Linked DNA regions of Homo sapiens. The protein of the gene in region 1 purifies or fractionates together with the protein of each later gene. This does not show direct contact. Each region holds a gene or a part of one and is shown on either strand. Other genes may lie near its edges. The genes, in order: GALNTL5 and SCAP.

Region 1 (3,816 bases):
GCTTTTGAGATGGAGTCTCGCTCTGTCGCCCAGGCTGGAGTGCAGTGGCACGATCTCGGCTCACTGCAAGCTCCGCCTCCGGGGTTCACGCCATTCTCCTGCCTCAGCCTCCCGAGTAGCTGGGACTACAGGCACCAGCCGCCACGCCTGGCTATTTTTTTTTTTGTATTTTTAGGAGAGACGGGGTTTCACCGTGTTAGCCAGGATGGTGTTGATCTCCTGACCTCGTGATCCACCCACCTCAGCCTCCCAAAGTGCTGGGACTACAGGCGTGAGCCACCGCACCCGGCCCCAAAACTGAATTCTTTGGTGGGTGGGGAGGGGGTAGTTGGGGGGGCCCCCACCAATAGACGCCTGGCCGCTGGGTGAAAGGGAAAGCAGGAAGGGGCGGGGGGTGGGGGTGGGCTCAGTACATTCTGCTTCTTTATCTCCCTATTTCCATGTAGCCTGCTTAAACCTATACTAAGCCACTTAGAATTGAAAATGGACCATCACATATAGGTTATTTTCTACAGATAATCCAGATGATCCAACACCATTTGTTGATAAACTTCCCTTTCCCCACTGATACAATCAGAATATTTATCCCTCCATGTCTCATGTTGAAATTTGTCCCACAATGTTGAAGGTGGAGCCTGGCAGGATGTGTTTGGGTTACGTGGCCAGATCCCTCATGAATGGCTTGGTGCCTGCCTACAGTAATGAGCTCTCCTTCTATTAGCTCATGGGAAAGCTGGTTGTTTCAAGAGCCTGGCATCCCCCGCTCCTTGCTCCCTCTCTCACCACGTGACCTGCCTGTTTCCCTTTTACCTCCTGCCAAGATTGGAAGCTTCCTGAGGCCCCCACCAGGAGCAGATGCTGGCTCAATGCTTCCTGCAGAACTGTGAGCCAAATAAATCTCTTTTCTTTATAAATTACCCAGCCTCAGGTATTCCTTTATAGCAATGCAAAATGTACTAAAACACCCACCTTTGCCAAGAATTATTTGACCATTTTTGCACAGATCGATTTCCGAATTCTATTCTGGTTCTTTTAAAAAATTGTTTTGGTTATTCTAGATCTTTCCTTTCCTGCATCACTGCTAGTAAGCCTTTACTTATATGATTCTAATTACATTTTCTTGCAGGTACAGATTTTAACCATACAAACCCAGAACTTCATAAAGAACTTTTAAAATATGGATTTAATGTGATTATCAGTAGAAGCTTGGGCATCGAAAGAGAAGTGCCAGATACCAGGAGTAAAATGTATGTTGTCTCTCTCTTTCTCTCATTCTCTAGATAGATAGATAGATAGATAGATAGATAGATAGATAGATAGAAAGAAAACAGTTACTAACCAGATTTTAATTTGATCATACTAGAAATGTTATAGATTCCTATTTTTAGGACTTGAAGTCAGATAATGTCAAGATTCTATTTCAAGATTCTAATGCTTATAGTGTAGAGAATGTCTTCTTCGTGGGCACAAAATGTGTTCTAGAGGCTTCCAAGAATTGAGTTACCCACAGATCTTTTTATTAAATCACCAATAAGGGCTTCTGGCCAAAGGGGCATTCATTCCTGATAGAAAATGCTCTGGACAGCTACTTTTTATTCCCCAAAATTTACTTTTTTCAAAAAAATTGTTCTTTCAATTGTTGCATTAATAATTATTATGTTAATGATTAACATAATCATTGTTATGTGATAAAATACACATAACATAAAATTTGCCATTTTAATCCTCTTTAAATGTACAATACAGACATTCACATTGTGCAGCCATCGATACCATCCATCTCCAGAACTCTCTCACCATCCCAAACTGAAATTCTGTACCTGATATGGTTTGGCTCTATGTCCCCACCCAAATCTTGTCTTGAGTTGTAATCCCAGGTGTCAAGGGAGGGACCTGGTGGAAGGTGATTGGATCATGGGGGTGGTTTCCCTCATGCTGTTCTCATGATAGTGAGGGAGTTCTCATGAGACCTGATGATTTTAAAAGTAGCAGTTTCCCCTGCATTCTCTCTCTCTCTCTCTTCTGCCACCATGTAAGACATGCCTTGCTTTCCCTTCACCTTCTACCATGATTGTCAGTTTCCTGAGGCTTCCCAGCCATGTGGAACTGAGTCAATTACACCTCTTTTGTTTAGCAATTACCCAGTCTCAGGTAGAATCTTTATAGCAGTGTGAAAATGGATTAATACAGAAAATAGGTACCAGGAGTGGGGCACTGCTATAAAGATACCTAAAAATGTAGAAGCAACTTGGGAACTGGGTAACAGGCAGAGGTTGGAATAGTTTGGAGGTCTCAGAAGAAAAGAGGAAGATGTGGGAAAGTTTGGAATTTCCTAGAGACTTGTTGAATGGCTTTGGTAAAAATGCTGATAGTGATAAGGACAATGAAGTCCAGGCTGAGGTGGTCTCAGATGGAGATGAGGAACTTGTTGAGAAATGGAGTAAAGGTGACTCTTGTTATGCTTTAGCAAAGAGACTGGTGGCATTTTGCCCCTACCCTAGAGATCTATGGAACTTTGAACTTGAGGTTTGGAAAATTTGCAGGTGACTATGTGGTAGAAAAGAAAAACCCATTTTCTGGGGAGAAATTCAAGCCCAATCCAGCTGCAGAAATTTGCATAAGTAATGAGGAGCTGAATGTTAATAGCCAAGACAATGGGGAAAATGTCTCCAGGGCATTTCAGAGACCATGGCAACTCCTCCCATCACAGGCCCAGAGGCCTAGAAGGAAAAATGATTTTGTTGGCCAGGCCCAGGGCCCTGCTGTTCTGTGCAGCGTTGGGACAAGGTGCCCTGTGTCCCAGCCACTCCAGCTCCAGCCATGGCCAAAAGGGACCAAAGTACAACTAAGGCTGTGGTTTCAGAGGTTGCAAGCTCCAAGCCTTGGTGGCTTCCATGTGGTATTGGGCCTGTGGTGCACAGAAGACAAGAGTTGAGCTTTGGGAGCCTCCACCTAGAATTCAGAGGATATATGGAAACACCTGGATGTCCAGGCAGAAGCCTGCTGCGGGGGCAGAGCCCTCGTGGAGAACCTCTACTAGGGTAATGCAGAGGTGAAATGTGGGGATAGAGACACCAAACCTAGTCCCCACTGGGGCAATACCTAGTGGAGCTGTGAGAAGAGGACCACCTTCCTTCAGACCCCAGAATGGTAGATCCACCAACAGCTTGCACCATGCACTTGGAAAAGACACAGGCACTCAACACCAGCCCTTGAAAGCAGCTGCGGGGGATGTACCCTGCAGAGCCACAGAAGCAGAACTGCCCAAGGCCTTGGGAGCCCACCCCTTGCATCACTGTGACCTGGATGTGAGACTTGGAGTCAAAGGAGATCATTTCAGAACTTTAAGATTTAGGGGCCAGGCACTGTGGCTCAAGCCTATAATCCCAGCACTTTGGGAGGCTAAGGCAGGTGGATCACGAGGTCAGGAGTTCAAGACCAGCCTGGCCAGGATGGTGAAACCCCATCTCTACTAAAAATACAAAAAAAAAAAAAAATTAGCCAGGCATGGTGATGCGTGCCTATAGACCCAGCTACTTGGGAGGCTGAGGCAGGAGAATTGTTTCAACCCAGCCAGCAGAGGTTGCAGTAAGCCAAGTTCACACCACTGCACTCCAGCCTGGGTGACAGAGCAAGCTCCGTCTTACAAAAAAAAAAAAAGAAGATTTAATGTCTGCCCCGCTGGGTTTCAGACTTGCATGGGGCCTGTGGCCCCTTTGTTTTGGCCAATTGGCCAATTTCTCCCATTTGGAATGGGAATATTTACCCAATGCCTGTACCGCTATTGTATCTTGAAAATAACTAACTTGTTTTTTA
Region 2 (3,816 bases), on another chromosome or scaffold:
GTGAGCTTCTGTTCTGGTCATAGCCTGTGGCAGCCAGCTCCATCCAGGTGCCTCTGTGCCTCCCAGCAGCTTCTAGTGGCTGAGCGTGATACAGAAGACAAAGTGGATGAGGCCTTCTGTCCCCAGAGCCCTCACTAAGGCACAGCCACATAAAGTTCACAAAGGCTCAGACGGTTGCCTCTGGTTGTTCCTTTGTGCCCAGGGTCCCAGGAGGCATTAACTTGCTGTGCTTGGTCAGCATCTTGGCCCTTGCCTATGCTGTAACCTGGAGTACTGCATTGGTGAGTGGCTCCATGGCCTCCCTTTCATCCACACGCATGCCCCTTGGAGTTCCCGACTGCAGCCCAGGCGTGGAGACAGCCCCTCATCCCTCAGCTGGGCTGGGCCCTGCCCCCTTCAGTCCACACCTCGCAGTACACCGCTGTCTAGGGCCATGTTTCCTTGTCTCCAGTTGTCACCAACTCCCGGGGAGTCTTTACAGAGCACTGCTTTCATCAGGTTGCCCCTTCACCTCAGAGACACTGGGCTTTGCTTTGTCAACTGATTAAAATCCTGACAGCTCAGTCAGGCTTCAGTCTAAGCCTGCTTGTCATCTTCCTCGTAATTTCTGTTATCCCCTGACAGGTTTCCTTGGTGCAGATGTCCAGGCCTTCTGTGCTCTCAGCATCCCTTGCAACTCACATTCCCTCCTGCTCCTCTCCTACCTGTTCTTTTCTAACCTTATGGCTCTACTCAGCTTCTCCTGGGCCATAACTCTGCTGTGGCTGACCCAGCATGTTTTGGGGTGCTCCGCGACATGCCTGTTACTGAGGGTTGCATATGTGAACACTCTTGTCATTTACATCCCTGTTAAGCTCTTGAAAGGTAGATGGCAGATTCTAGTGAGAAAAGTATGTGATATTTAGTGAGGAGACCTTGGTTTGAGTCCTTACACCACCCTGCCTGGAGTGTGAAGCTCTAGGCAGGCACAATGCCTGAGCCTCTCCTTGCTTCTCATCAGGCTGTTGTGAGGGTCAGATGAAGTGAAATGCCTGATTGTTCATTGTTAATATTTCTGCTAATCTTTCAGACACTGTTTGTATGCGTGTGTGGTGTGTGCATACATCTTGATGCTGCAGGGTGAATGTCGTTATTCCTGTTTCACAATGAGGAAATTGAAATCCAGAGATGTCAAAAGTGTTTTCAAGGCCATATGTTTGGAAAGCTGTGATTTAAAATTGGGTCCTTTGATCTTCAAAACCCGCTACTCTGCTGCAAGTGACAAAACCTGAATCAGTAAGACAGGTTACATGCTTTGGGGAGTGTAGAGTCTATAGTGCGGTCAGCAGACATGTTCCATAAAGGGCTAGATAGTAAACATTTAGGCTTTGCGGGCCAGACGGCCTCTGTTGCAGCCATTTGACCCTGCTGTTGTAGAGTGAAAGCAGCCATAGACAATAGTAATGGTAGGGGTGTGGCTGTGCTTCAGTAAAAATTGGAAGTGGAAAAACAGGCACTAACCAGCCTGGGCAACATAGTGAGACCCCATCTCTACAGAAAATAAAGAAGTTAGCCAGGTGTGGCACTTCGGGAGGCCAAAATGGGAGGATCACTTGAGCCCAGGAGTTCGAGACCAGCCTGGCAACATAGTGATACCCTGTCCCTACAAAACATTTTTGAAAATTAGGCGTGGTGGTGGTGCACACACCTCTAGTCTCAGCTACTTGGTGGGTGGGGGTGCTGAGGTGGGAGGATCTCTTGAGCCTGGGAGATTGAGGTTTCAGTGAGCCATGATTGGGCAATAGAGCAAGACCCTGTCTCAAAAAGAAAAACAGGCATGGGCCCTGATTTGGCCTACAGGCCATCGTTTGCCTACACCTGGTCCCACAGTGCTTTGCCCATAGTAGATGTGTTATTGAGCAAAAGAGGCTCGCTGCCCAATGTGCTAGAAGCCAATACTGTGACACCAGGATTTGGGGAAAAGAAAAGCTTTATATTGAAGGTTGACTCCCTAGGAGACCGGAGTCCAGCTCAAATCTGTCTCCCTGTGCTGGCTTTAAGGCAGTAATTTTATTAGGAAAGGTTTAGAGGGTGGATACTAGGATTAGCAGATGATTGATGGAAGGAAGGGTGATTTCTGGGAAGTCTTTGAGCATGCCCAGTTATCTCTTGATGCCACCTCACAGGTCCCATGTGCAAATTCCGGGGGGAGTTAGTATGAAACATGGCAGTGGAAATTCAGGCTGTGACATCGGCAAGCTCATTCTGCACAACTCCAGTCGGCCATCTTGGTTCCAGCTTATTTCAGCCAGTTCTTTTATCTCATAAGCGGAGGGAGTTTCTGGGTTTCAGCAAATTGTTTCTTTTCTTATCTGCCATCCTGCAAACTCAAGAACTTGTATTAGTCATTGGTTTCTTTAACTCTGTGGGGCACGGTTTCCAATGCCCATTAAATCCCTTGAATTGGACCGTCTTTCTTCTTCCTGTGCTCAGCTGCCCTTTCTGCCCTCCCTCATTTCTTCTGCAGTATGTGGGTGCCCCGGTGGCTTATGTCCAGCAGATATTTGTGAAGTCCTCAGTGTTTCCCTGGCACAAGAACCTCCTGGCAGTAGATGTATTTCGTTCACCTTTGTCCCGGGCATTCCAACTGGTGGAGGAGATCCGGAACCACGTGCTGAGAGACAGGTACCCCTCTCAGGGACCCTGGCCTCCCTGAATCCCATTCTGTACTGAAGGGAGAGTTACAGTCCTCAGTGTAACTGCAGTGAGCCAGTCAGCTCTGCAGAGATAGAACAAGCAAGAAGGATGGAGGGTGAGCTAGCCTTGAATTTCTCAGCATCCTTGTGGGTCTACGGTGGCTGCATTCCGCTTGGACCTATGCAGATGGCACACACATAGCCTTGAGTCTCATCCTTACATCTCAGATGGAGTCAGTGTCCACTGTGCTAACTCATGACCCACATGGCTTCCTGCCTGTGGGTTATGGTGTGAATGTAATGGTGGTGTCTCTGCCGACGAGAAGCAAGCTCTACCTGGGGGTACCTTCTGAAGCCCCAGCCCAAGTCGTGCTCCCCTGCCTATCAGTGGGTCCCTGGGTTATGCTGGCTTGGCATACAATGTGTGTAATTGGCAAGCTGCATCACTGCCAGGTTTTAGTTAGCTAGTGGCGTTGACAGATATTTTGGTGAACTAAATGAAGCCCCTAATTTACCCCGGTCCCTGCTCATCCACTGAACTGGCCAGGGTGTTTTAGTGGGTGGGGTTGTGCATGCTCTTATAGTACACTTGCCCGTCCTCAGAGCTGATGGGCTTTTGGGCTTCAGATGCACTTTGAAAGTCAGACAGCCACATGTTTAGGTTATTGGCCACCTGGAAGTACTTCCCCCTGCTGCCCTAGTGGTCAGGCTCTTTGGCGATACCAGAGAGCAAATATGGGGCATTGAAGAACAGACAGAGGATGTCCCCTAAGTACAGCAGGTCTGCCCTGTGGTGGCAGACACAGCAGGTGCCTTGTCCTGTCTCCTGTGCAGCTCTGGGATCAGGAGCTTGGAGGAGTTGTGTCTGCAAGTGACCGACCTGCTGCCAGGCCTTAGGAAGCTCAGGAACCTACTCCCTGAGCATGGATGCCTGCTGCTGTCCCCTGGGAACTTCTGGCAGAATGACTGGGAACGCTTCCATGCTGATCCTGACATCATTGGGACCATCCACCAGCACGAGCCTAAAACCCTGCAGACTTCAGCCACACTCAAAGGTAGCCCCAGTACAAGTTCCCTTCAGACCTGTAAAGGTGCCCATTGGTCACCGTCTTTTTGATGTGTGCTTAGGCAGATCAGGGTT

Evidence for each region.
Region 2: the proteins of GALNTL5 (region 1) and SCAP purify together in Homo sapiens (affinity purification with mass spectrometry; one large-scale study listed by BioGRID and IntAct). This does not show direct contact.

The regions. Positions count from the first base shown.
Region 1 is NC_000007.14:151,969,819-151,973,634, forward strand, and holds part of GALNTL5 (inactive polypeptide N-acetylgalactosaminyltransferase-like protein 5), read left to right. Parts: intron 1-680; exon of another isoform or gene 681-855; coding exon of another isoform or gene 856-883; intron 884-1,126; coding exon 1,127-1,247; intron 1,248-3,816.
Region 2 is NC_000003.12:47,427,361-47,431,176, reverse strand, and holds part of SCAP (sterol regulatory element-binding protein cleavage-activating protein), read left to right. Parts: intron 1-2,506; coding exon 2,507-2,664; intron 2,665-3,509; coding exon 3,510-3,730; intron 3,731-3,816. UniProt on the Homo sapiens protein: Escort protein required for cholesterol as well as lipid homeostasis.